Linked DNA regions of Homo sapiens. The protein of the gene in region 1 interacts with the protein of each later gene in a pairwise test. Each region holds a gene or a part of one and is shown in the gene's direction. Other genes may lie near its edges. The genes, in order: KIR2DL3, FUNDC2, RNF152 and ANKRD46.

Region 1 (7,909 bases):
TGACCCTTTATCTTATCCATTAAACAATCAGGTTAAACCTCTTCCTTATTTGGCTTTCTGTGAGCTTGGGATCATATGGAAAATGTGAAAGCCTCCTGAACCCACCAGCACAGGTCCTGGAATAGAGAACGTGCTCTGTTCATGGCATAAAACTTGCCCCTTCACCCAAATCCCCCAATTCATCTCTACTTCCAATCACCTATGGAGATACAGATAGATCATGGGGAGGTAAACACTAATACTCTTTGGAGTGAGCTCAGATCTTGGACTCAGAGACCAGTGCCAGCACTAGCCCCTGGTCACATTTCGTACTAACTCACAGAAGGACAGGCTGTATTGAAACAATAAACGACGGAGAGGGCGGTCCTTCCCCGTGCTTCTCGGGTGGAATAGCAGCCTAATATATGTCTCAGCAGATCACAAAAAGTAGCATGTTGTTCCTGGGCTACATCATTATTTCATGGCTGTTTGATTTAAGTCAGTTCTACTTCACTTTTTTTATCTTGATTTCATTTTTTCTTTCTTTTCTTGGAGAATGTAATTTTTTTGAGTCAAGAGGGTTGTGGTGGTAGAAACTGTAAAGCACATTCGCTGTGTATCAATCCCAATCCAGTCTTCCCAGAGAAGATTCTAAACACCTCCTGGAATGCACCTGGGCCTATACCAATTCCTATCACTCACCGTCACTCCAGGGAGACAGAACACACAGAGAACACATTACACAGGCAGGTTCATTACTAACAGATAAGCAGCGAGTGACAACAGAAACCTACATTTCAATGTGAGCCAGTCCCTCAAGGCTCAGAAAAGCTGCTCGAGACATGTGGAGTCACCCCATATGCAGTGTATCTGGGGGAAATCAAAAAGCAGCCCAGCCTGGGTTTTGTACCCTGGAGCCACAGGAAGCACTCAGCTAAAGCACTGCATGACGTCCTCCTCCAGGAAGAACAGGAAGACAGCCCAGGCTGTTCTGGGATGTTCCTCCTGATCTCAGGACGTTGCTGTCTTAGTCCATTTTTGTTGCTCTAAAGGAACACTTGAGCCTGGGTAACTTCTAAAGACAAGAAATGTGTTTGCCTCACAGTTCTGCAGGCTGTACTGGAAGCATGGCACCAGCATCTATTTCTTGTGACGGCCTCAGGCTGCTCCCACTCTGGCAGAAGGGAAGGAGGGTCTGTCTGTGCAGAGACCACAGAGATCACACGGCAAGAGAGGGACCAAGGGGGAGGGGGAGCGATGGAGCTTCCAAGCTCTTTTAACAACCAGTTCTCCAGGAACTAATAGAGGGGGAACTTGCTAACCCCGTCTCCTTGGAACAGCATTGATCTGTTCATGATGGATCCACCTCCATGACCCAAACAACTCCCAAGAGGCCCAACCTCCCACTCTGGGGGTTACATTTCAATGTGAGGTTTGAAGGGGTCAAACATCTAAACTAAAGCAGTTGTATCCTCAGCACGTTCTATGGTTACTACAACTGAGAAAGCAGGAGGAAGCTAGGTCTCCCGCCATCTGGGTGCTTGTCCTAAAGAGACGTTGTATGTGGTTACCTGTCAATCAAGAAATGTGAGACAATTCATATAGAGGAACTGCTATGATTAGCTTCTTATTGGTGTCTTGTCTTCCTCCAGGTAACTCCAGAAACCTGCACGTTCTGATTGGGACCTCAGTGGTCATCATCCCCTTTGCTATCCTCCTCTTCTTTCTCCTTCATCGCTGGTGTGCCAACAAAAAGAGTAAGTCTCACGAAGCAGAAGCCAGAGAGCTCAGGGCCATGTGGGGAAGCAGGATGGGAGCACTCAGGTGTGTGTTCCTCACAGACTGGATGGTCCCTGGCCCAAGGCAGGAGCCACAGAGGCAGGACTTTCTAGAGAGAGCACCAGACTCCCTGCCTCTGCCTTCAGCTCACAGACCATTGCCTGATTCTGAACCGTATCCTCACATCCCCTGCAGCCACTCACATCCAGGAGAAGGTTCCATGACAGGCAGAAAGTGGGACACAGAATCAATAGGATGGGAACTCAGAGCTATACATGGGATGGATCCTTGAGCTCAGAGAGATAGAATGTCTGAGTCTGCTGTTGGCAACTGAGGGACCTCAGGCACCTATGGCCTCCCCCTGTATGTTGGTATCTGCTTATGAAATGAGGACCCAGAAGTGCCCTCCGAGCTGTTTTGACGACTTCCGTCTTCTACAGATGCTGTTGTAATGGACCAAGAGCCTGCAGGGAACAGAACAGTGAACAGGGAGGTAGGTGCTCCTCCGCCCAGCCTCGTGGCTAGTCTTATTCCCAAAGAGTCCTGGAAAATGTGAGCACCCTCCCTCACTCAGCATTTCCCTCCCTCCAGGACTCTGATGAACAAGACCCTCAGGAGGTGACATACGCACAGTTGAATCACTGCGTTTTCACACAGAGAAAAATCACTCGCCCTTCTCAGAGGCCCAAGACACCCCCAACAGATACCAGCGTGTAACACGGAACTTCCAAATGCTGAGCGCAGATCCAAAGTTGTCTTCTGTCCACTAGCACCACAGTCAGGCCTTGATGGGATCTTCTAGGGAGACAATAGCCCTGTCTCAAAACCGGGTTGCCAGCTCCCATGTACCAGCAGCTGGACTCTGAAGGCGTGAGTCTGCATCTTAGGGCATCGCTCTTCCTCACACCACGAATCTGAACATGCCTCTCTCTTGCTTACAAATGTCTAAGGTCCCCACTGCCTGCTGGAGAGAAAACACACTTGCTTAGCCCACAATTCTCCATTTCACTTGACCCCTGCCCACCTCTCCAACCTAACTGGCTTACTTCCTAGTCTACTTGAGGCTGCGATCACACTGAGGAACTCACAATTCCAAACATATAAGAGGCTCCCTCTTAACACGGCACTTAGATACGTGCTATTCCACCTTTCCTCAGAGTATCTTTCAGCCTTCTGTCAGCAGTAAAACTTATAAATTTTTTTTATAATTTCAATGTAGTTTTCTATTCTTCAAGTAAACATGTCTGCCCTCATGGTTTCTTCAATGGGACTCTTTTCTTGCCTAAGGCTTCCGGTGTTATCATTACCACGTCCACATAACCCCATCTGTTCTCCGCTGGGTTCTCAGCCCTGGACTCTGAGCTTCTGGAAGCATGGTGGAGCCTGAATTGTCTCTGAGACTCCAATTTCCATCCAAAGATGCAGCACATAGGAGGTTCCAAGGATGGTGAATCAGATGAACAAGTGATATTCTTACTCTCTGCAGATCTGGAAAGCTGGCAGAGTCATTCCACGATGAAACATTTGTAGAGTCATAGGCCTTGTTAGTCTCATCTCCACAGGGACACGTATCAACACATCATCTTTCATACTACTATAAATAGACAGTCACTCCTCCATATCTCTGGGGTTTACACATGTTTATTGAATCAGCAATAAATCAAAAATATTTTGAGAAAAAAAATCCCCGAAGTTTCAAAAAGCAAAAAACTATGTTGAATCGACACAAATTGAGTGGCGTGTAGGCTGTGTCAGGAATTATAAGTAATCAAGAGATGATTTCATGTATACAGGAGGATGTGCATGGGTTCTATGCAATTGCTATGCTATTTTTTTTTTTTTTTTGAGACAGTCTCACTCTCTCACCCAGGCTGGAGTGCAGTGGCGTGATCTCAACTCACTGCAACCTCCGCCTTCCAGGTTCAAGCGATTCTCTTCCCTCAGCCTCCCCAGTAGCCTCCCCTAGGATTACAGGCACGTGCCACCATGCACAGATAAATTTTTTTGTGTGTATATTTTTAGTAGAGATGGGGTTTCAGAATGTTGGACCAGCTGGTCTTGAACTCCTGACCTTGTGATCTACCCAGCTCAGCCTCCCAAAGTGCTGGGATTACAGGCGTGAGCCACGGTGCCCAGCTTCACTATGCCATTTCATGCAAGGGGCTTGAGCATCTGCAGATTTTGGTATCTGAATGGGGATCCTGGAACCAATCACCCAGGTATAGTGAAGGACCATGGTATATAATTTTTATTTGTCAATCTTAAAAATAAAGCATAAAAAATTTACAACAACAAGATAAAAAATAAGAAGTGTTTTTATAGTGTGAGGATAAGTTTAGATTTATTTTTTCCTACGTGTAACCCTATGGTCCTGTGTTATTTGTTGAGAAAATATTCTATTCCACCTTAAACTACATGGCAGCCTTTGTCAACTATAAAGGGACTGTGTATCCACAGATGTATTTTAGACACAGTTTTCTGTCCAGTGGTTCTCTGTATCCCCTCTCATGAGGATGCTGCATTTTATATAAACTTATAGAACCCCTTAAAATTTGGTAACCTGAGTCCTCTGATTTGTTATTATAGGTTATTTAGTTTGCTTTTTTTTTTTTTCTTGAGACAGACTCTTCCTCTGTCACCCAAGCTGGAGTTCAGTGGCTTGAGCTCAGCTCACTGCAACCTCCGTCTCCCAGGTTCAAGCTATTCTGATGCCTCTGGTTTAGTAGTAGAAACTCAAGCAGGAAAATTAGAATGGCTTCTTGTCACAATTACTCTGATAATGTTAATAATACCTGTTAGACATTTTGCACATTACATATGAAGAAGAGTTTGAATCTCAGATAAAAACAAAAATACATCAAAAATCTTTAATGTAAGCACAGAATTCAATCATCTCGTGTATGAGAGGTTGGATCTGAGACGTCTTTTGAGTCTGGTCGTAGTGAAGGACGCAAGGTGTCAATTCTAGTGAGAACAATTTCCAGGAAGCCATGTTCCGCTCTTGAGCGAGCACCCACTGGGCCTCATGCAAGGTAGAAAGAGCCTGCGTACGTCACCCTCCCATGATGTGGTCAACATGTAAACTGCATGGGCAGGGCGCCAAATAACATCCTGTGCGCTGCTGAGCTGAGCTGGGGCGCGGCCGCCTGTCTGCACAGACAGCACCATGTCGCTCATGGTCGTCAGCATGGTGTGTGTTGGTGAGTCCTGGAAGGGCATCGAGGGAGGGAGTGCGGGGATGGAGATCGGGGCCCAGAGTTGGAGATATAGGCCTGGAAGTGGAGTTATGGGCCTAGAGATGGAGTGATGGGCCTAGAAGTGGAGATCTGGGCCTGGAGTGGAGATCTGGGCCTGGAGTGGAGATATGGGCCTGGAGGTTGAGATATGGGCCTGCAGTAGAGATATGGGCTTGTAGTGGAGACATGGGCCTGGAGATGGAGATATGGGCCTGGAGATGGAGATATGGGCCTGCAGTAGAGATAGGGGCCTGGAGTGGAGATATGGGCCTGGAGTGGAGATATGGGCCTGGAGTGGAGATATGGGCCTGGAGGTGGAGATATGGGCCTGGAGGTGGAGATATGGGCCTGGAGTGGAGATATGGGTCTGGAGGTGGAGATACGGGCCTGCAGTAGAGATATGGGCCTGGAGTGGAGATATGGGCCAGGAGTGGAGTTATGGGCCTAGAGGTGGATATCTGGGCCTGGAGTGGAGATATGGGCCTAGGAAGGAGATATGGGCCTGGGTGTGGAGATATGGGACTGGAGAGGTGATATGGGCCTGGAGTGGAGATATGGGCTTAGGGTGGAGATCTGGGCCTGGGGCGGAGATATGGGACTGGATTGGAGATAGGGGCCTAGGGTGGAGATCTGAGCCTGGATTGGCGATATGGGCCTAGGGTGGAAATATCAGCCTGGAGTGGAGATATGGGCTTGGGGTGGGGATATGGGCCTGGAAACTGGGTCTCTGCACAGCCGACAGCCCTGTTCTTGGGTGCAGGTAGGCACTGAGGGTGAGTTTAACTTCAGCCCAGGAAGGGCCTGGCTGCCAAGACTCACAGCCCAGTGGGGGCAGCAAGGGAGGCCTGGTTTGCCTGCAGATGGATGGTCCATCATGATCTTTCTTTCCAGGGTTCTTCTTGCTGCAGGGGGCCTGGCCACATGAGGGTGAGTCCTTCTCCAAACCTTCGGGTGTCATCTCCCCACATAAGAGGATTTTCCTGAAACAGGAGGGAAGTCCTGTCGGGGAGTCTCTCATAAACTAGGAAGAGAGGACCCTGGGGTGCTCAGCCCACATTTCTGACCTCGCCTCCCTGGCCTCTCAACCCCTTGGCAGAGTCAAGTTCTGTGGGGACCAGGGTTAGACTGGGGTGCTCAAAGCTGGGGTGTGTGGTTGGGAAGTGGTAGGAACAGCAGATCCTCTGAGGACAAAGGTGTTACTCACACACTTCAGCGTTTCCATGATGGTAGGGGCTGCAGTGTGGCTGCTGTCATTCTACCAGAAGAGGTGGGAAACCACAGCCATGGCCCTGACATTCCAAATCCTCTGATGGGGGCTCAGTTGTTTATTTTCGTTCAGGCATCCGCTGATATCCATTCACAAAGGACATGCCCTCCACCTCATGTCTACCCTGTGTTGTTTTATGTGAGTAATCTTACAGTATTAAAATCTAGTAGGAGTCTCTTTACTCAGCACTTGCTCAAAGTTCTCAGCTGAGGCTTTTGTTGTAGGGAGACACCATGTCTTTGCGGGATGGGTCCTTCCTTCAGCCCTGGGCACCAAGGTGTGATAGTAGCCATAGAAACGTGGAAAGCGAGGAGAATCTTCTGAGCACAGGGAGGGAAGGGCAGTTCCACATCCTCCTCTCTAAGGCGGCGCCTCCTTCTCCCCAAGGTGGTCAGGACAAGCCCTTGCTGTCTGCCTGGCCCAGCCTTGTGGTGCCTCTAGGACATGTCATTCTTCGGTGTCACTCTTATCTTGGGTTTAACAACTTCAGTCTGTAAAAGGAAGGTGGGGTGCCTGTCCCTGAGCTCTACAACAGAATATTCTGGAACAGCCTTTTCATGGGCCCTGTGACCCCCGCACACACAGGGACATACAGATGTCGGGGTTCACACACACACTCCCCCAGTGGGTGGTCAGCACCCAGCAACCCCCTGGTGATCGTGGTCATAGGTCAGAGGGCTCCTGTCTTGGATTCTCCTTGTCCCACCTCCTGAATCCCAGAGCTTCTGTTGGGCATGTCCTTGAGGGTCCCATCACGCAGGCCCTGACTGTATTTGTGGTAAAGGGGGATTGAATACAGGGAAATGGGTGCTGTGGTGGGAAGAATAATTGTCCCCAGTGATGACTACATTCTAATCCCTGGAGTCTGTGACTATTTATGTTATAGGGGAAGGGACTGAAGGGGAAGATGGAGCTCATGGGGAGACAGCCTGGACTGTCCCACTGGGCTCAGTGTAATCACAAGGGTGCACATGAAAGGAGGAGGAAGAGGGGAGTGGGGATTAGAGCAGTCCAGTGGAAGTCTTCACCAGCTTTGAAGGTGGAGGAAGGCCAAGATCCATGAATGCAGGTGGCCTATAGAGGCTGGAAAAGTCAAGGAACTGATTCTCCAGAGTCTCCAGAGGGAACAAAGCCCTGCAGATGCCTTGATTTTAGCCCAGGAAAAATAGGGTCCAATTTCTGTCTCCAGTACTGGAAGGTGTCAGTGTGGTCTCTCCTGCTGCCATGCTTCTGATAATTTTCTACAGCAGCAACAGGAAACCAACACTGGAACCCAGGTCAAGGACAAGTTAAGAAACAACCCAAGGAAAGCCAGGCATGGTGGCAGGTGCATGTAATCCTAGCGACTCAGGAGGCTGAGGGCAGGAGAATCACTTGAACCCAGGAGACAGAGGTTGCAGTGAGCCTAGACCACACCACTTCACTCCAGCCTGGGTGAAGGAGTGAGACTCTGTCTCCATAATTAATTAATTAATTAAAGAAACCAAACAAGGAGAAGGTTGGCTACCCTGAGATCAGCAAGGGTGGGATGATGATGCCACCACCAGGCTCCATCCACATAGGGAGGGGTTGATACTCCTCCAACCAGCACCAGGAGCCAGCCTATGGAAGCTGGCACCATGGAGAAGGCACAGGCATGGCAAGAGTG
Region 2 (7,024 bases), on another chromosome or scaffold:
GAATGAACATCTTAAAAATATTGAGTCTTGCAAAACATAAACAGTATATCACTGTTATTTTAGGTCATCTTCAATTTCTTGGCAGTGTTTTGTAGTTTGCAGTGTTTTCTAGTTTACAGTGAACAGGTCTTGTGCATCTTTCATTGAATTTACTACAACATAATTTTTGCAATTAAAATTATTTTGTTTTCCAATTCATCATTTCTAATACACAAAAATTCAAATGACTTTTTAATATTGGTCTTATAATGTGTGACCTTGCTTCTGGTACCTTTTTGTAGATTTTTCTGGGTTTTCTATATACACCGTTATATTATCTGCCAATGAAGACAGAATTATTGTTGTACCTCCTTTCTAATCTCTTTGACTTTTATTTCTTTTCTTTTGTTGCACTGGCTAGGAACTCCAGTACAGTGCTGGGCGAGGTGGCTCACACTTGTAATCCCAGCACTTTGGGAGGCTAAGGAGGGAGGATCACTTGGGGCCAGGAGTTCCAGACCAGCCTAGGCAACAAAGTGAGACCTCCTGTCTACAAAAAAAAAAAAAAAAAAAAAAAAATCAGTTGGTCATAGTGGTGCACAGCTGTAGTCCAGCTACTGGGGAGGCTGAGGTGGGAGGATTGCTTGAGCCCAGAAGTTTGAAGTTGCAGTAATCTGTGATAGTGCCACTGCACTCCAATGTGGGTGATAGAGTGAGACCCTGTCTCAAAACAAAACAAAAAACAGTTGAATAGATTTTAGGGAAAGAAAAGTGTTCCATATTTCACCATTAAGTATGATGTTAGTTGTATATTTTTCATAGATGTCCTATATCAGATTGAAGAAATCCCTTTCTATTCCTATTTTCTACTTTTTTTTTTTTTTTTTTTGAGATGGAGTTTCGCTCTTGTTGCCCAGGAAAATGGGCAGTGGTCTGATCTCGGCTCACTGCAACCTCCGCCTCCCAGGTTCAAGCAATTCTCCCATCTCAGCCTCCTGAGTAGCTGGGATTACAGGCGCCTGCCACTATGCCCGGCTAATTTTTGGTATTTTTAGTAGAGACGGGGTTTTACCATGTTGGCCAGGCTGGTCTCGAACTCCTGACCTCAGGTGATCCACCCGCCTCGGCCTCCCAAAGTGCTTGGATTATAGGCATGAGCCACCACGCCCAGCCCCTATTTTCTACTTTTTATTCTGATTTTTTTCTTTGATTTTAAAGTATAAAATTTCTGTAATTATTATTTTTTTACAGTAAGTATTCATTTAGATTTATCCACCTATTTGCCCATTCCAGTGTCTCATTCCTTTCTGCATTTCCATATTTCCATGTGGCATCATTTCTTGTCGGCCTGAATAACTTTTGTGTACCTCTTTGAATATTACTTCTATCCCATTCTTTCTAATCTTCTGGAACTCCAATTACATATATGTTTAATCTTTTGAGCAGTTTTTGATCATTGTTATTTGCTTACTTCAGCATCTTGATCATCACTGGTTCTGTTTCTGTTTCTGTTTCTTTTTCTTTTTTCTTTTTGGGACTGAGTCTCGCTGTGTCACCCATGCTGGAGTGCAGTGGTGCGATCCTTGGCTCACTGCAACCTTCGCTACCCGCGTTCAAGTGATTTTCCTGTCCCAGCCTCCCGAGTAGCTGGGACTACAGGCACATGCCACCACGCCCAGCTAATTTTTGTATTTTTAGTAGAAACAGGGTTTCACCATGTTGGCCAGGCTGGTCTTGAACTCCAGACTTCAAGTGATCCGTCCCCCAGGCTTTCCAAAGTGCTGGGATACAGGCGTGAGCCACCGTGCCTGGCCTGCTTCTATTTCTTTTATTTAAACAAATTTTGTTTCCTTTATATGGCTTTGCCTTTGCATGGGTAGTAGTCATTTTCTATTGTTTGTTACATTATGTGTGAAAAGATTGTACACACTCCATGCCAGATGAAGTTGATCATTTGAGGTCAATTTTACAGTAAACAGCTTTGAATAGTACATTGCTGACATTTCATATCAGACATTTCTTAGTGCGGTGTGTTTCCAGGGAAACAGGGCTGGGTATAGTAGGGGAGCCTGACATTATCTTCCCACAGAGAAAGGGATTGACATTTTGTTAAGTCTTTCTCCATGCTTGGGCAAATCATTTAACTTTGGAACCTTCATTTCATTTTTTTTTTTTTTCTGAGACGGAGTTTCACTCTTGTTGCCCAGGCTGGAGTGAAGTGGCGCGATCTCGGCTCACTGCCACCTCCACCTCCCCGGTTCCAGTGATTCTCCTGCCTCAGCCTCCCAAGTAGCTGTGATTACAGGCGCATGCCACCATGCCCAGCTAATTTTTGTAGTTTTAGTAGAGACGAGGTTTCACCATGTTGGCCAGGCTGGCCTCAAACTCCTGACCTCAGGTGATCTGCCCACCTTGGCCTCCCAAGGTGTTGGGATTACAGGCGTGAGCCACCACGCCTGGTGCCTTCTTTTTTTTTTTTTTTTTTTTTTTGAGATGGAGTCTCATTCTTGTTGCGCAGGCTAGAGTGCAGTGGTGCGATCTTGGCTCACCGCAACCTCTGCCCCTCAGGTTCAAGTGATTCTCCTCCCGAGTAGCTAGGATTACAGGCATGTGCCACCACCCCCGGCTAATTTTGTATTTTTAGTAGAGATGGGGTTTTTCCATGCTGGTCAGGTTGGTCTTGAACTCCCGACCTCAGGTGATCCACCTGCCTCCGGCCTCCCAAAGTGCTGGGATTACAGGTGTGAGCCACCATGCCTGGCCTTCATTTCTTAATTATAAAATTGAGTTAATAAGTAGTACCTACCTTATTCTGTGGATTAATTAGATGTACATGATTAATGTTTAGCACATTGCCTGGTAAATAGTAAGAGCTCAATTAAACATTACCCTCTCATCTTCATTATCACTGGAGATCCACGTAGTACTTAGAAAATTTGTGGATTACTGAATAGCATTGAGCTACTTCTGAAGAGAAGGGGCAAATTTGTTTCATTTGGGATGCATTACTGGCAGTTTTTTATAGGTCTTTTTGGATTTATTTATTTATTTGAGATGGAGTCTTGCTCTGTTGCCCAGGCTGGAGTGCAGCGGCACTATCTCGGCTCACTGCAACCTTTGCTTCCTGGGTTCAAGCAATTCTTTTGCCTTAGCCTCCTGAGTAGCTGGGATTACAGGTGCCTGCCACCACGCCTGGCTAATTTTTGTATTTGTAGTAGAGATGGGGTTTTGCCATTTTGGCCAGACTGGTTTCGATCTCCTGACCTCAGGTGATTCGCCCACCTCGGCCTCCCAAAGTGCTGGGATTACAGGCGTGAGCCACCGCGCCCAGCCTTTTTTGTTATTTTTAAATTTGAGAGGACAAACTAGAGGACTAATTTGAGATTTTCTAGGTTTTTCCCTGTAATATAGACATTAGTATTTGCTGATTTTAGTCTGATTTTCCAAAATTGCAACTTAGAATAAATTTACTATTTAAAATAGAATATTTGGAGGTTTCTTATTACATTTATGTCTGTTTCTTTAAATATCTCAATCTAGTTAGGTATAAAAGTAAATATTTTCTTATTTAACGTATTACTTCTTGTAGGAAACTTTGAGGGAAATTTTGAGTCACTGGACCTTGCGGAATTTGCTAAGAAGCAGCCATGGTGGCGTAAGCTGTTCGGGCAGGAATCTGGACCTTCAGCAGAAAAGTATAGCGTGGCAACCCAGCTGTTCATTGGAGGTGTCACTGGATGGTAAGTGATGTGAAAGATGTCCACTGTCTTTTGTGCATGATTTAGTATTGCAGTTATAGGTACCATCATCTCCTTTAACCAGTGAAAACACATTGGCTTCTGTGAAATTGGTCACTTAATGTGGAGCATGTATCTAAACATCATCTTAAAGTACCATTTAATGGTTACACATAATGATTGTTTCCTATATGCCAGGTTCTGTTTGAAGTATTTACATAGATATCTCATTTCCTTCTCACAACTCTGGAATTAGTACTGTTATTTTCTATCCTCATTTTATAGAAACTGAGGCTCAGAAAGGTTAGTTTGCCCAAGGCCACATAGCTGGTAACTGGTAGAATAAGGAGCTAACTACTTATTAGCTATGTCAGATGATAACTTAATGTGACACAGCTTATGGTTTCATTTGTAATAAATTCAAAAAGTAATAGCAAATTTCATAGGTGAATATTGAATCCATTAATCTCATAGACTCTTTACATTTGAAAAATTTTATAGCACCATATAGCAAATATAGAACAGCACATTTAACAGGTGTACATTTTAGCAAATACTTGGAGTGAACACCTATGTAACAACTGCTAAGGTTAAAAAAAACGTGGCTAGCGCCCTAGAAACTCGAGAGGTTATTAAGCAGTTATTTCATTGCTTTTCTTTGTAGTTTTAACACCAGTTATGTCACTAAATAACATACTGTGGTTTACCTGCTTTCCACCTTAAAGTAAATGCAATCAGTATGTATTCTTTTGAGTCTTGCTTTTTTCGCTCAACCTGATGTTTCATATATTCAACTACATTGTGTATAGTTGTAGTTTCTTCACTTTCACTTGTATTTTGAGTTCCATTATGTGAATATACCACAGTATATCCAGTTGATGACTGATATTGGAGTTGTTTCCATTTTTGGCTAATACTATGCTTATATGAGTATTAGATTTCCCAGTGTATATGTGCATACATTTCTGTAGGGTCTGTACCTAGAAATTGCTAGGTAATGGGTATAGGTATCTTCAGCTTCACTAAATAATGTCAAACCACCTTCCAAAACTGTTTTTAACAGTTTACAGTCCCAGCAAGGACCAAATGAACCTGTTGTTCTACATGGTGGCACTTGATTTTGCCAGGCTATTAAATTTTTAAAAAATTAGTTAATTTTTCCTTAGCGAGGTAATCAAGTTAAATCCAGACTATAAAAATTTTACCAGTCTGGTAGTTAGGTAGTAGTATTTCATGGTGGCTTCATTTACATTTCCCTGAGTAGGAGTGACATTGATCGACTTTTACGTATGTTTGTTGACCATTTGGATCTCCTCTTTCAGTTCCACTCTAGTTTTTTTCCTCTGAAGTTGTCATTCTTTCCCTTGTTAAGCTGTAAGAGTTCTTTATATATTCTGAATATTCTCAGTCCTTTGTTAGTTGTGTGTATTATAGATATTTTCACTCATTCTGTGGTTATCTTTTCGTTTTATGGTATCTTTTGATGAACTGAAGATCTTATTTTTAATATAGTCAATTTTATCAATCTTAACCTTAATGGTTAGTGATTTTTGTGGCTTATTTAAGTAATCTTTGCCTACCCCATGTTTCAGAACTTTTATTATTTGACCTTTCACATTTAGATTTATTATCCACCTGGAATTGTTATTGTGCTCAGTATGTGGTAGATTCCTTCTTTTCTTCCCCATGTGGAATACCCATTTGTCCCAACTTAATTTATTGTGAAAGCTATCCCTTTCCCCGCTGCTTTATGTGAGTGTGTGTGCGCATGCATATGTGTGTGTCTGCTATCTTGTTCTTTAGGAACATCTTGGCTATTTTCTTTATCTCTTAGTTTTTAAATTTAATAAATAGGTATATTATAAGTTGCACATATTTAAAGTATAAAATTTGATACATTTTTACATATGTACATGCCCATAAAACCATCACCACAGTCAAGATAATGAACATACCTATCACTTCAAAAGCTGCTTTGTACCTCTTTGTAATTCCACGCTCTTTCCTTCATGCCATCCTCCCGCCACTGATCTGCTTTCTATTACTATAGATTATGTTTTCTAGATTCTTTTTAGAAGTGGAATTACATAGTATATATTCTTTTTTGTCTGGCTTCTCTTATTCACCATAATAATATATTTTTTTGTTTTGAGACGGAGTCTTGCTCTGTTGCCCAGACTGGAGTGCAGTGGCACGATCTTGGCTCACCGCCTCCTGGGTTCAAGCAGTTCTCCTGCATCAGCCTTCACCATAATAATTTTGAGATAATCTGTGCTTTTCTGTTTATCAACAGTTCATTCCTTTTTATTGCTAAGTAGTACTCCATTGTATGGATGTACCACAATCTGTTTCTCCATCCACCTTTGATGGACATTTGAGTTTTTTTTTCACTTTTTAGCTGTTACAGATAAAACTTCAAGTTTGTATACAAGTGTACAAGTCTTTGTATGAACATATGCTTTCATTTCTTTTGGGTAAATATCTAGGAATAGTATGGCTGAGTCACGTAGTAAGTGAATGTTCTAAATTTACAAGTACCTGCCAGTTTTTAAAGTGCCTGTACCATCTTACATCTCCACCAGCAATGTGTGAGGGTTCCAGTTCCTCTGCATCCTTACTAACACTTGGTATTATCTTTTTGATTACGAACATCTTAGTGGGTATGAAGTTGTATCTCATTGTGGTTTGAATTTGCGTTTCTCTAATGACTAATGATGTTGAGCATTTTCACGGGCTTATTTTTTGCCATTCATATATCTTTGATGACTTATTTGTTCAAATCTTTTTCCACATATTTTTATTGGGTTGTTGGTTTTCTTTCACTGCTGAATCGTGAGAGTTCTTTAAATATTCTGGATAGAAGTCTTAGATATGTGATTTGCAAATATATTACTTCTCTGTAGCTTTTCATTATCTGAACTGTACCTTTCAAAGAGCAGAAGTTCTTAATCTTGAAGTGCAGCTCTTTTGTAGCTCCAGCTTTTGGTGTCATGTCTGAGAATATTTGCCTAATCCAGGGTCACCAAGATTTTCTCTCGCTTTTTCTAGATTGTATATAGGTTCGGATTTTATATTTAGTTCTGTGATCCATTTTGATTTACTTTTTGTATATAGTATAAGGTAGGAATCCAAGTTTTTTTTGCGTATGGGTATCTAGTTGTCCCCACATTTGTAAAAAAAAGACTGTCTTTTTCTCCACTGAATTGTCTTTACACCTATGTTGAAAATCAGTTGACTATATGTTTTTGAGCTCTTTGTACTGCCAAATTGATCTAGGTGCCATTATCATGCTGTTTTGATTACTGTAA
Region 3 (7,024 bases), on another chromosome or scaffold:
ACTGGTCATCAAATAAAATAATTATAATCCTCTCTTTGCCTATTTCAAGTGCATGTTTACTCTGAAGTGAAAGGCCATTAGGTATTTTCAAGGCTGATTCTAGGAGGTTGTGAGCTTAGCATTATGTAATAGAGAGGTGTTACTTACAGACTTTCTCTTCCTCACCATCTGCCTCTTGTTTAAGGCTTCCTGAGTTTGTTTGGAACCGCCCAGGGTAGAAAAAGAGTGGCAATGGGCCTAGGGCCACCCAGGAGGTGGCCTCCTGCAGCAGAGACCACAGGGCAACAGATAAGATCTGAAGGGGGCAGGAATGTGTTTAGGGTAACCTTGGGTCACCCTTTTGTTACTTTGATGTTTAGAAAAAGCAATTTGGGCAAGAGGCTTTTTCTGGTCACAGGACTAGTAGAACACCCAGAGAGTTTAGGGACATTTGTGCTTCCATCAGCAACTGTATTGACTAGGAGGGTGGTGAGTTCTAAAGCCTTCCTTGCCTCACTCTCCCTAAAAAGAGTTGGATGCTATGGAATAGGCATTGCAAGGTGCTCTGGATTCAGCAGTTGGTGGCTTGCAGAGATTTTGCTTTGGGAAGAGCTGTTCACTCATATATCTTTGTTCACATTGTGATAACGGCATGCACGGGTGAGCCATTTTAAAGATTTGATAAATACCTTAAGCATAAGTGTAGAATTTAACAAAATAATATTGCTTTTGGTTCAGTAATCACCTTGGCAAAGTCATTTTTATAAAGATAGCTCTCCAAATAAGGAAGTGGTGTGGTAAACTATGTTAGTCTCCAAGTCACAGTGACTGAGGGGATATCAGTATCAACCTAGGGAGGTTGAGACCACCCGGCTTCATTCAAGTGATAAGATGTAGCACCCAAAGCGTTTCTGAATTGGGAGATGAGCAGCTTGGAGACCAGCAGGAAGAACCAGATATAGACCATCCAAAAACCCATTCAGGGTGCCTGGGGTTGGGCTGAGGGCCAGGCACAGACTGAGGGAGAAGGAAAATGAAAGCCCCGAGGGACTAGTCTTGAACTATATTTGGGAAGCCCCAAAATGCATTTCTATATTTTCTCTGGCCTCTGGGTCCCTACCACTTTAATTTCATACCCAAGTCGGCTGGTCAGGTAGAGGACTCTTGTGGCATGAAAGTGGTTTCTGGCACTGCCCATTGTGACGTCATGGAAACCGGAAAGGAAGAAGGTGTTGGTTTTCCTGCTTCTTTTCCCATGGCTTCGAGAGTTACACTGTGTGATCCAGCAGTCTGACTCCATGATTGAAATCACAATTGGGATAAAGTTGGTAGAGATGCTTCTTAATTTACAGTGGGGTTATATCCTCATAAACCCCTCATAAGTTAAAAATATTGTAAGTGGAAAATGCATTTAATACACCTACTGACATCATAGCTCAGCCTTGTCTGCCTTAACTGTGCCCAGAAATGCGCATTAGCCTACAATGGGGGCAAAATCATGTAACAAGAAGCCTATTTTGTATTAAAGCATCAAATATCTCATGTAGTTTATTGAATACTGTATTGAAAGTGAAAAACAGATTGGTCGTATAGGCACTCAAAGTACGGTTTCTACTGAATGTGTATTGTTTTCACACCATTGTAAAGTCAAAAAATCAAAGGTCATAGGTCAAACAGTTGTAAGTAGGGAACCGTCTGTGCTTGTTACATGCTTAGGGATTTTCAATTTCTAATTGACTCACTGTCATTGTAGGATTTAAAGAGGGAGACCTCAAATAGTGTATCTGTGACCTGCATCTCCTTTGGGTGGTTCTTGATGTCCATGATTTCTTGGCCTAGATCACGTTTGGCTGCTAAGGCCTGGACTACGTTCTTCGTGGAGTTGTGAGGGGGCTGCTTGTGATCGCCTAGGAGTGGAGAGGATGCCTTATTTACCCCTTGATATACTAATGCCTGCATAAATAAAACTCATTGCAAACATCCTGCATGATGAAACTTACTCAAACATCACATAGACTTCCTGGTTACCTGCCTTTCATGCAAAGGAGGGGCTGAGCAAATGAAGATGTGCTGCTGGTGGGAGCAAAGTTATGAGGAAGTAGAATCTCCAAATGCTGTGTTCTGTGCTTGTATTTTCTCTTTCTACAACCTCCTCTCCCCTGCCACTATCGCATTCCCACCTACCAAGGAAGTGTAACTTTCCCGGCTCAGTTCTGATCTAGACATCCAGATAATCACACTTGGTGCACTCCTCACTGAGGTTTGACAAGAATTGAAGAGATTTTGGTAAAAGCTTTGACAGATACTGTAGAAATAGGGAGCATTCTTTTTTTTTTTTTTTTTTTTGAGATGGAGTCTCACTCTGTCACCCAGGCTGGAGTGCAGTGGGGCATGATCTCAGCTCACTGTAACCTCTGCCTCCTGGGTTCAAACTATTCTCCTGCCTCAGCCTCTCGAGTAGCTGGGATTACTGGGATAATTTTTTCTATTTTTAGTAGAGACAGGGTTTCATCATGTTGGCCAGGCTGGTCTTGAACTCCTGACCTCGTGATCCACCCGCCTTGGGCTCCCAAAATGCTGGAATTACAGGCGTGAGCCACCGCACCTAGCCAGGAGCATTCTTCTTACTATTGCTGTTTCTGCTCCTTGACAGATTCACTTAGTGACAGTTGCCACTGCCGCATCTTAGTCAAGAACCTTGTTTCTCTCTGGGCTATGACAATGGTCTTGCTCACTTTCTGGCTTTCCCACCCCACTCCAGTTTGGAAAATGCTGTCACTCTTAGACCATTAGGCCAATTAATCCTTCATCCCCTCACTTAATAACTTTTAGTTGCCCTTGTGGGAGGAAGCTCATATTCTTCAGTTTTGCTTTTCAAGTTTTCCCCAGGTTGACCCCAAACTTCCTTTCCAACCTCGACTTTTGCTCCGCCTGACTTTAAAACTGAACATTAGCTGGGATGGTTAATCCACTGTTGCCCAAAATGTTTTTCATTGCCTCTTTCTTATTCTAGCACATTCTGTGGCCTAAAATGTCCTCTTCCTTCCTCTGCCTCTATCCTATCATCGAAGCCTCAGTTCAGCTCTCAACTCTTCTGAAAAATTTAACTTGATCACATTAGCCTTTAGAAATTCTTTATAATCCAAAGTTCTCTGGCAAAATTGCCTCCATCTCTCATTTCATTCAACATTCATTCATTCATTCTACAAAGGCCACTTGTCATAGATTGTCTTGTATTATCACCTACGATTGAAGTGTCTTTTTCTTTCTGTTTAATTGCAAAGAATAGAAATTCACTCAAGCTTGTTTGCATAAAGGGAGGTGAATTGAAGAGATGTCCCAGGATGTCTTGTCATCAAGCCACATTTCCCAAGAGTTCCAGTGAATGGGACCCTTCCAGTTATCATTCACCCTGGACCTGCTTAGTGCAGGAGAGGGTTGGGGGCACAGTTCCTTCCAAGGGGGCCTGTGGCTGGCTGATGTAGCAGTTGTGACCTGCAATTAGCCTACAATGGGGGCAAAATCATGTAACAAAAAGCCTATTTTGTATTAAAGCATCAAATATCTCATGTAGTTTATTGAATACTGTATTGAAAGTGAAAAACAGATTGGTTGTATAGGCACTCAAAGAGATCTCAGTTCTCTTGCAAGCTCCTTAAAGATGACTGGATGAGGCTTTACACCATTGTGTGTTTGCCACCGTGTTTGTACACAGGAAGGGCTCAATAAACAAATCATTGGTGACTCTTTGACAACACAGAAAACGATTTTGACTTACAGTGATTTAAAGGAATTTTAGACCCTTTTAGCTTGAAGTCTTAAAGGAAGTTAAGAAGATAGAAACTTATTTTTAAGAGCTTCCCCTACTTGCATTAATAATGATTAAATGTTGAATCAAATTAGAATGACCAGGCTGCAGTACGTATACCAATGTTTGGGAGGTGAATGTTCTCAATGAGGGTCATGATTCTAACAAAATTAGTTGTTACTCAAAGCCTGTTTTTCAACTTCCATTTGCCTCCTACTTTGCCCACAAAAAAAAAAAAAAAAAAAAAAAAAAAAGAAAGCAAAAGAAAGCAAAAGAAAAAAAACCTCTACTTGGTGACATACAACAAGCAGCTTTAGGACTTTACAGCCTACCAGACCACCCCACAATCTAACGGAGCAGGCATTGATGCCTGGATTTGTGATGACTGGGTGTAGTTGCCCACCGCTGACTGCCCCACCTGCGTTTATAATTAAAGGCTTCAATACCTTTGTGATATACATCTGTTTTACCTCCCTTTTTTTGATTTTGGAATACTCATTCACATGATAGAAACTCTTCTTTGATACTCAAAATGCTTGATCATTATGAGAGTGTTATTATGAAAGAGGGAAATATGTTCAGCTGCTTGAAGAAAATGACCAGAAATACATTAATATTAAAATAACGCTCTCGGCTGGGCGTGGTGGCTCACGCCTGTAATTCCAGCACTTTGGGAGGCTGAGGCGGGTGGATTACTTGAGGTCAGGAGTTTGAGACCAGCCTGGCCAACATGGTGAAATCCCATCTCTACTAAAAATACAAAAATTATCCAAGCATGATGGTGTGCACCTGTAATCCCAGCTACTTGGGAGGCTGAGGCAGGAGAATTGCCTGAACCTGGGAGGCAGAAGTTGCAGTGAGTTGAGATCGCACCACTGCACTCCAGCCTGGGCAAAAGACCGAGGCTCTGTCTCAAACAAACAAACAAAACACTCTCAGTTTGAAAGGTAGTGAATAGGGCTGAGATAAGTGTCTCAGGAACCAAGTATTTGTTGTGATATTCTTTTGCAGTTGTGTTGTTCTGGGGTAGGTTTGCAAATTGCTTCCTCGAAGATTAATAATATGAGATTAGAAGTGGTTGGTGAGCACATGGACAAATTTGTGTACTTTGGAGAATTTACCCCTTTTGTTGCATGAGACATAAGATTACTGCCATTTTAAGTGAGTAATAGTTAATTCAACCATGCAGGTAAAGAGGTGTCCTTAACTGGGATAAATAGTCCATCCACTCCACTCCTTTACATTGGTACTTCAGAAACTGAAGGTACAGATCCATCCATTCACCTATGGTGGTGTGTAAAATAGCATTTGAAACACTGAGCATCAGGTATTTAAACCACTTATTAGGCAAACAATTGCATTCATTAAATGTATTTTGAATGGCCAGGCATGGTGACTCACGCCTGTAATCCCAGCACTTTGGGAGGCTGAGGCAGGCAGATCACCTGAAGTCAGGAGTTCAAGACCAGCCTGGCCAACATGGAGAAACCCCGTCTCTACTAAAAGATACAAATTAGGCAGGCATGGTGGTGGGCACCTGTAATCCTAGCTACTCTGGAGGCTGAGGCAGGAAGAATTGCTTGAACCTGAGAGGTGGAGGTTGCAGTGAGCTGAGATTGTGCCACTGCACTCCAGCCTGGGCGACAGAATGAGACTGTCTCAAACAAACAAACAAACAAAAGAATGTTGAATGCCTATGTTTTACCAGGCATAATTCTAAAAAAATCCCTGCCTTCTAGCTTCCTGTAGGTATTTAACTCATAATTAATTTGGTTTTCTGCTTTTTTTTTTTTTTGTAATGGCAAAGCTAAAAGGGTAGAGAATAAAAGAAATGTATCTGATATTCTCTCAATTCTTGATACCTTAGCATATATGCCTGCCTTACATGGCTCTAATTCAGGTAAGTCATTATGAACTGGAATTTTAAAAAGTAAGATGGGTTTGGGTTTAAATTTCACGTCTGCCACGTGACCTGAGTGCACAAGGTCTGACTGAGTTTGTTCTTCAGCTGCAAAATGGGGGAGAACCGACCTCATTGAGTTAGTGTAAGAACAGGAGAGACTTACATATAAAGTGCTTAGTGTGTTGCCCTCCACAATGTAAGACTAAATAAATGGCAGCTGTTGCTAACGTCCTTATATCCAGCATCTACCATCCACCAATCATTGGGCTCAGTTCTGGAAATATCGGGATGAATAGGCATGGTCTAACCTGAAGAAGCCCTTAAGCTAGCCAAGGAGGTGATGGCATCCAAGTAACTACAGCCTTCAGCGTTTACATGGGAGTTTCTTTTACCTGTCATTATTGTCAGAGTCTTTGGTTTGAAAGTCTGTAAAGCTTTCAGTGGCTCTGAGTTTAAAATGATAGGCCTTCTCAGGAGGAAGTGGGGAAAAAGCTGGAAGCAACTGGAGGAGAGGAGTCTGAGAAAGGGTTCTGAGCTAGCCCCCAGGCAACCTGAGTCTTCCTTAAAGGAGATGAGTCGCCTTTCTCCTGTGGCCTCACTCTTCCCAAGTGAAATGAAGGACATCCTCTTTCTCAGGGTCTGCTTTCTTGGGAGTAGAGTGACCCCCAGACTTGCCCATGACTAAGAGCATACCTGGGTCATGGAACTTTCCGTTTTAAAACAGTCCCAGAAAAATTGGGATGAGCTGGTCACCCTCCAGTCTTGTTCTGTGATTGTTGTTTGACATCCTGAAGCAGGCTTTGTAGAGATCTAACATTGTTAGTAGAGATACAACCATCCTACAAGAGAGGAGCAAGCGGGGCAGAATAAAATGGGAAAAAACATTGTAGCCTTGTCAACCCCTTTATTTAGGAATCTGCTTTTTGGAATGGGATATTTATTATTATTAAAAAGAAGAGAACTGTTTAATAAAGGCAAGGAATCTAGGCTATACAATATAAATATAAAGTTAATGAAACCTTTTAGAAATTCTTCTTAAAAAGGGGTAGCCGCTTGGGGCCCGGTACACAGTAGACACTCAGTAAAGACTTATTGAAATGGTGGCATCAATTTATTCTTCAGAAATATTTTTGAAAGCTGCATAGAGAAGTGCAAGAGGCCTCTGAGACATGCATTCCAGGACAGGTTGAGGGGCTGAACACTGTGGGCTTTGAACCAGTCTGCGCCTCACTCTTCTGGGCCCTTCCATCACTCATTTGAAAATGCATGCATCTAGATATGCTCTGGGTTTCCTGTGCTGGTATCTGAGTGTGTTTATGTATGAGCTGATGCTC
Region 4 (7,024 bases), on another chromosome or scaffold:
CTACTATGGATAAAAAAGGGACAAACTATGGATACACACAGCTACCCTGGATGAATCTCCAGAGAATTATACTGAGTGAAAAGACCAATCCCAAAAGGTTCCTGTATGTGCTGTATGGCTCCATTTATACAACATTCTTGAAATGACAGAATTAAAGAAGTGGAAGACTAGGTAGTGTTTTCTAGGTGTTAAGGAGAGACTGGCATGGGAGGGAAGCAGGAATAGCTAAAAAGGGCAACATATGAGAGATTTTTCATGGTGATGGAAATGTTCTGTATCTTGACTATATCAATGTCAGTATCCTGGTTGTGATGTTGTACTATAGTTTGGCAAGATGTTACCATTGGGGGAAACTGGATAAAGGGTGCACAGGATCACTCTGTGTTATTTCTTACAACTGCATATGAATTTATAATTATCTCAAAAAGTTTAATTTAAAAAAGTCTTTAGTCCTCTTCACCCATTGGACAATCGTTAAATATGTGCTCTGATTTGTATTCACTTTATGACTTCTTAGGGAAGCTATTAACAGAGTCTAGTGAGTAAGGTCTAACTGAGGTCTTGGAAGTTTTCTTGGCAGGTTTCTAGTAATTTAGTCTAATGAATTTGTATAATATTATTATGAAATCATACAAATCTGTAATTTGTTCAAGTGTATTTTCTTATGGGCCATTGTAATATCCAAAGAAAATGGCAGGCTGGTTGCGGTGGCTCACGCCTGTAATCCCAGCACTTTGGGAGGCCAAGGTGGGTGGATCACCTGAGGTCAGGAGTTCAAGACCTGCCTAGCCAACATGGTGAAACCTCATCTCCACTAAAAATACAAAAATTACCCAGGCATGGTGGCACATGGCTGTAGTCCCAGCTACTGGGGAGGCTGAGGCAGGATAATTGCTTGAACGCGGAGGCCTCTGCAGGTGAGTCGAGATTGCACCACTGCACTCCGGCACCAGCGACAGAGTGAGACTCTGTCTCAAAAATAAAAAAAGAAAAAATTGCAGAAGCATTGTCCTTCTTGTGGATTTAAGAGAACATTAGGATTATTTGGGGGCATGACCATATGAACTATAATTCCATCTCTAGATGAAAAACAAAATTTTTTCTTTTTCCCTAATGTGAGCTCTACCACATCCAGAATAACCCACTTGCACCATTTTAATTAACATTGAAAATTAAAGCCAAATCATACATTAGAGACAGGCTCTAGTCGTTAAAGACTCAGCTCTAGAGGTCAGGACAAGAGAGGAAAAATATTAGGCTTTGGGTGAATACATAATATTTGTTTAAGGAAATCAAGGTAAGTGGCTCCGTGATATGAAGTTCGTCTAAATTGATACTGTGGTATCACAAAAGAAGTAGGAAATGAGGAGCGTAGATGTTTTGTGTGTTATCATGTCTTCGTGATATTTACTGACCCTCGTGTGGGACTGGTCCTCAGGTACAGTTTGTCAGCTATTGTCATCAGTTCCAGCCTAGCACTGATAGCCTTTATGATACAACCTGACTTACATATTGTAAATGGAGCTTTGTAAAATACCATTAATTATTTCCCTATATAAATTTGTTCACAGGGATTTGATAACAATGAACAAGGATGATCGGTAAAAAGTTAACCTGTATTTCACCCTGACCAGGAATTTGGGATTTGGACTTGATAGCATGGTATCTGGCACATTGCAGGCACACAGTGAATGTTTGTTTCATGAACTAATATTGCTATTTTTGTGGTCCTTACTGCCTGCCCATGACCCTGCTTCCACGGTCCTTCCAGAGAAGAGCTGAGTGGGCAGACAGGGTGCCCTCGTAGTCTCTCTCAGTGCAGAGAAGTGCAGCCTGGGTGGGGGAGCAGCGTCAGGCTATGTAAAGAAGACTACAGATAGACTTGGGCCAGCTTTTATTTCACACTGAAAAGACAAGGAAGGGAACAGATTTAAAGAGATTTAAGTACCAGCATTCAAGGTAGATTAGAAATACTTTTTCTTAAATGTATCCTGTTTGGTTTAAATATAAGTATTGGCTTTTTAAACTTATTTTTTCCCACTATGAATAGTATTTTATTTATAAAAATGCTTTTGTGGACTAATCTGGGATCTAGCCTCCATTTATAATGTGAAAAATATGCATTCTGAATTCCAAGTAATGACTGAGAGTGAATTTTCGGAGCCCAATTTGTTCTTTAGTGATGGCACATAATTTGATTCTTATTCTTTTATCTTTCTGTCTTGCTTTCTTGTTTGTGGGCCACAGAGCAGCTTCTATTAAGCCCTTCTTTGCTTCCTTTTCACTACTTTGTTACTCGTCAGATATTTTTCTGGCCTCACAAGTTGATGCCTCACCTACAGATTTTCTAGAGAATTTCTTCAGGCTCAGTAACCTGTCTGTATTTAATAGAACAGTGAGTTCTTTTTCTCACCACACTTCTATTATAACTTAATTTTCTATTTACTGTAGATCCTTGCCAGCACATTACAGAATATTTTTGTTGAACCTTCTTGAGAATTCAGAGAAACTGCTGAGTGACCACTGAACGAAAAGATCTAATCTTAAGGCTTACGTGAGTATTTACTACTGTGGACTTCCTCACAAGATGTGAAACCTTCAGTGAACTGCTTTAGGACAGATTCAGTTCTGTGATCAAGATGAAAAATAACTATCATTGGGCTTATTAAATGTGGGATTAAGTTTAGTAGTTGCTCAGGGACACAGAGAAACTGACAAAATACACACTTGTTCTCACCTGAAAAATAGACACAGAGACTTGTATTTCTTGCTGAGCCAACACTCAGAAGTATCCTAGTCTGCAAACCACAAGAATTCTTACTGTGTCTGAATCAAAAACACCAACTAGATTTTTTAAATTATCTATTTTTAAAAATTTAACCAAAACACATTACCTTTTGAAAAGCACTTGATATGTGGCATTTCATTTTGAAAAAGGTTTATGATAGCTTTTCCATTTTTATGATTCAATACTGTGCAAGCTTGTCCAACCTGCAGCCCAGAACAGCTTTGAATGTAGCCCAACACAAATTCATAAACTTTTAAAAAACATTCTGAGATTTTTTTTGCAATTTTTTAAAGCTTATCAGCTATCATTATGTATTTTATGTGTAGCCCAAGACAATTCTTCTTCCATTGTGACCCAGGGAAGCCGAAATGTTGGACACCCTTGCTGTAAGGGAAAATATTTAGATTACCCTCGCAAAAGAATTCTTGACTATTTTATTGAGTAAATTCTTCTCATTGAGTTTTTCTGTTTGTTGGTTTGGTTTGGTTTGGTTTGGTTTGTTTTTTTGAGACAGGCCTCACTTTGATGCCCAGGCTGGAGTGCTGTGGCTCAATCACAGCTCATCGCAACCTCGACCTCCCGGGCTCAAGTGATCCTCTCACCTCAGCGTCCCGAACAGGTGGGACGAAAGGCGCGCGCCACCATGCCTGGCTAATTTTAAAATATTTTATAGAGACAGGGTCTCTCGCTATGTTGCCCAGGCTAGTTTCGAACTCCTGGGCTTCAAGCTATCCTCCCATTTTGGCCTTCCAAAGTACTGGGATTACAGGTGTGAGCCACTGTGTCCAGCCAGATTTTTAAAAAGTCATCATATGTATCATAATCTGAAGTTTATTTTGATTTTAATCTCTGTAGTTTTTAATCATAAACTTTTTTTCGTATTTGAAATTATTCTTAACAGCCCCTTTTCACCCTTCATTTCATATCCAGTGAGTCATTAAGTTGTGCTAATTCTGTCTTCTCTGTTCCTCTCCAGTGCGTCCCCTTCTGCCTGCCACTGCCTTAGGTCAGGTTTTCATTTCTTGCCTAGATAGCTGCAATGACCTAATGATTGATCTCCCTGCCTCCAGTCTTTGTCTCTACAATCCAGTGCCTCCATATTGCCATCCAAGTCATCTTTCTGAAAGACTAATAAGACTGTGCCATTTCTTTGACTTAAAATTCTTCAGTGGGCTGGACTCATTGAAATAGTAGTCCCAGCTATTTAGGAGGCTGATGTGGGAGGATTGCTTGAACCCAGGAGTTTGAGGCTGCAGTGAGCCATGATTGTACCACCGCACTCCAGCCTGGGTGACAGAGCAAGAACCTGTCTCAATTTAAAACAAAAAAAATCCTTCAGTGGCTCCTCACTGAAATTCAGGTATAAAAAAGCCTAACTGTGGAGTTGTTAGGAAGATTAAATTAAATTCATTAAAAGCTCCTAGTTGGTACCTGGCTCAGAACAAGTCTCAGTGTATGTTAATGCCCACTCTTTCCACAGAGAGCCCATGGTAGCAGCAGAGCCCTTGTGTAAGGCAGCCCCAGATTTTGGGACAATGGCTCTGCTGAGAAGCCAAGTTGAAAGGAATAGGGGCAGCAATCTCACCAAACTCAGCAGCCAGGCTTCCCTGAATCCCCTTGAGGTTAGGCACAAGAATAGATGGGTCTAGCGTCCAGTTCCATCAGTGTTTCAGAAAGAGACTTTACCTGATCAGCTGTATAAGCCAAGTCCATATGTGACTAAGCTTTTGTAACCTAAGAATAAAAAAGCCATCTCTAGAAAAGCATTGGTCTCTGCCTTTCTGTTTTCTTGTTTGTTTTCTCGTCAATTTCCTAGCGAAGTTTCTTTTGACAGGCTTTAACTCTTTCTTAAATGAACCTAGGGGAAGAGAGAGAGACCTAGTTGTATGCAGTTTGGTAGAGCAAAATGTCCTGAGAGTTCAGGTGCACCAGGCAGATGCTGAACTCTCACCTGAGTTCAGGTGCGCCAGTGGGGCCAGGAAACATCTGTGAAAGAGATGTGGGCAAACTGGTGAGCTGGATGAGTCCAAGAGATGAAATTCACATCAGACCTAGTTGGGATTGCTGCTTTGTCCTGACTTGGTATTCCCAGACAGCCCTACTTTTTTTTCCCCTCATCTCTCAGTCTTTGGACGGTGGGAATTTGGCACAGTCACATATTGAGATAACCACAGAGCACAGCAGAATAAGATCAATAGTGGAAAAAGCATAATCTGAATTGATTTCATGCTCTGATTTTTAAATTCAGTTTGTTACATTCCTTAGCCTTTCTCTTAAAATTTGTGCTATAGGCCAGGCGCGGTGGCTCACGCCTGTAGTCCCAGCACTTTTTGCAAGGCCAAGGCAGGCGGATCATGAGGTCAGGAGTTCAAGACCAGCCTGGCCAACATGGTGAAACCCCGTCTCTACTAAAAATACAAAAAATTAGCTGAGCATGGTGGCAGACACCTGTAATTCCAGCTACTTGGGAGGCTGAGGCAGGAGAATCGCTTGAACTCGGGAGATGGAGGTTGCAGTGAGCCAAGACCGCGCCACTGCACTCCAGCCTGGGCAATAGAGCGAGACACCATCTCAAAAAAAAAAAATTGTGCTATAAACATAACACTCTACAGGTCTTTGTTGAGTATAAGTTCTTTTCATGCAAGTAGTTTTAGTTACCATGTAGAATATCTCAAATACAAGAAGAAGCAAATATATCAAAGAGAATTAGTTTGTATTAAATAAGAATGTCTACCAGCAGTAGCATTTATATATGGGTAGTTCTTTGATGTTTAAACACCATGTTATCTATGTGTTCTGACAATGTAATACTTAAATCTAAGCTATTATGTCTTGCTTAACTTTAAAAATATCTCTTAATCTTTTTACATGGTGAAAAGCAAAATAGAGCTTTACAGTAATTGAATTGGAATTTTAATCCAGCAGATGTGAAGAAAATAAAATGTTTTAATGGAAAATAAAATACAATTGATAACTTTGTTGTTGTTTCTGTTTGGTCATTTATTTATTAGAGGCAGGAGGCCAAAAAGGATGAGAAATATTGCTTTTCTAAATGACTCCTTTGTCTTGATTTCATTTGTCTTCATGGAATCTCACTCACCTATTTCATTACAGGCGTGTTCCATCCACCACATCAGAACAATGTCGTATGTTTTTGTAAATGATTCTTCTCAGACTAACGTGCCCTTGCTGCAAGCCTGTATTGATGGGGACTTTAATTATTCCAAGCGGCTTTTGGAAAGTGGCTTTGACCCAAATATTCGTGACAGCAGGGGCAGAACAGGCCTTCACCTTGCAGCAGCTCGAGGGAATGTAGACATCTGCCAGTTACTGCATAAATTCGGTGCCGATCTTCTGGCCACAGATTATCAAGGAAACACAGCTCTTCACCTCTGTGGCCATGTGGATACTATCCAATTTTTGGTTTCCAATGGACTCAAAATTGATATTTGGTAAGTTCTCTGTTGTTTTAGAAGTCTAGTCATTTCTTCCCATTAATCTCTCAACTGATAATCTTATCTTGGGTCTGTTGGTTTTGTTTCCTCATTAATCAGTTGAAATAAGTTCAGAAAGCATTGAAGACAGTGTAATCCTGTTAGGCAAGTGAGGGAATGAGGGGCTGACTTCTAGATTTTTGCTAAAGCAGCATATTTTTTTCTATGAAAATAGTAGGTAGTTTCTGCTACTAATTATGTAGTGTTACAACAAGGGAAGAAGAAGAAAAGAACATTTGTTGAAAATCTATGAGCTAGACTGTGTTTACTTGTTAGCTCATTTAGTCCTCAGAATGAAGAGCTCTCACAATAGGTGTTTTCATTTTACAGATTAGATAGTGAAGACAAAAAAGGATTGGACAAAGTTCACACAGTTTATAGAGGATTTGAAAAGGTCACAGCTTATAAGGGACAGAGCTGGAATTTGAACCTAGTTCCGCTGACTCTAACGCTTGTGTGCCTTCTGTCATGTAACGCACCATGTGAGCTTCATAATCTCCCGGGAGTCCAGGATCCTTTTTAGACTGAACAATTTGAGGAAGTCATGGGGCTTTTTGTTTGTTTTAGTGATACTCTGCTTTTTGAGTGGGAACGATGTCAAGTCACCTGTAAAACTGAGCTTGACCTTTAAATTACAGTTACACACTGCCCTAATTTATTGATGCCATAATGCCCCTAAATCTGAATAAGACAGTAAATGCTTTTGTTTCTGCAGGACAAAATGGGGTAGGAATTGACTGCA

Evidence for each region.
Region 2: the proteins of KIR2DL3 (region 1) and FUNDC2 interact in binary tests that used the Homo sapiens proteins (3 or more experiments, as listed by UniProt).
Region 3: the proteins of KIR2DL3 (region 1) and RNF152 interact in binary tests that used the Homo sapiens proteins (3 or more experiments, as listed by UniProt).
Region 4: the proteins of KIR2DL3 (region 1) and ANKRD46 interact in binary tests that used the Homo sapiens proteins (3 or more experiments, as listed by UniProt).

The regions. Positions count from the first base shown.
Region 1 is NC_000019.10:54,733,622-54,741,530, forward strand, and holds the start of KIR2DL3 (killer cell immunoglobulin-like receptor 2DL3 precursor), read left to right. Parts: upstream 1-4,891; 5' UTR 4,892-4,924; coding exon 4,925-4,958; intron 4,959-5,885; coding exon 5,886-5,921; intron 5,922-7,909. Other genes in the region: KIR3DL3 (killer cell immunoglobulin-like receptor 3DL3 precursor), read left to right, coding at 1,632-1,736, 2,199-2,251, 2,350-2,475. UniProt on the Homo sapiens protein: Receptor on natural killer (NK) cells for HLA-C alleles (HLA-Cw1, HLA-Cw3 and HLA-Cw7). Inhibits the activity of NK cells thus preventing cell lysis.
Region 2 is NC_000023.11:155,029,835-155,036,858, forward strand, and holds part of FUNDC2 (FUN14 domain-containing protein 2), read left to right. Parts: intron 1-3,568; coding exon 3,569-3,719; intron 3,720-7,024. UniProt on the Homo sapiens protein: Binds directly and specifically 1,2-Diacyl-sn-glycero-3-phospho-(1'-myo-inositol-3',4',5'-bisphosphate) (PIP3) leading to the recruitment of PIP3 to mitochondria and may play a role in the regulation of the platelet activation via AKT/GSK3B/cGMP signaling pathways.
Region 3 is NC_000018.10:61,883,003-61,890,026, reverse strand, and holds part of RNF152 (E3 ubiquitin-protein ligase RNF152), read left to right. Parts: intron 1-7,024. UniProt on the Homo sapiens protein: E3 ubiquitin-protein ligase that acts as a negative regulator of mTORC1 signaling by mediating ubiquitination of RagA/RRAGA and RHEB.
Region 4 is NC_000008.11:100,528,739-100,535,762, reverse strand, and holds part of ANKRD46 (ankyrin repeat domain-containing protein 46), read left to right. Parts: intron 1-2,451; 5' UTR 2,452-2,554; intron 2,555-3,302; exon of another isoform or gene 3,303-3,407; intron 3,408-5,902; 5' UTR 5,903-5,929; coding exon 5,930-6,240; intron 6,241-7,024.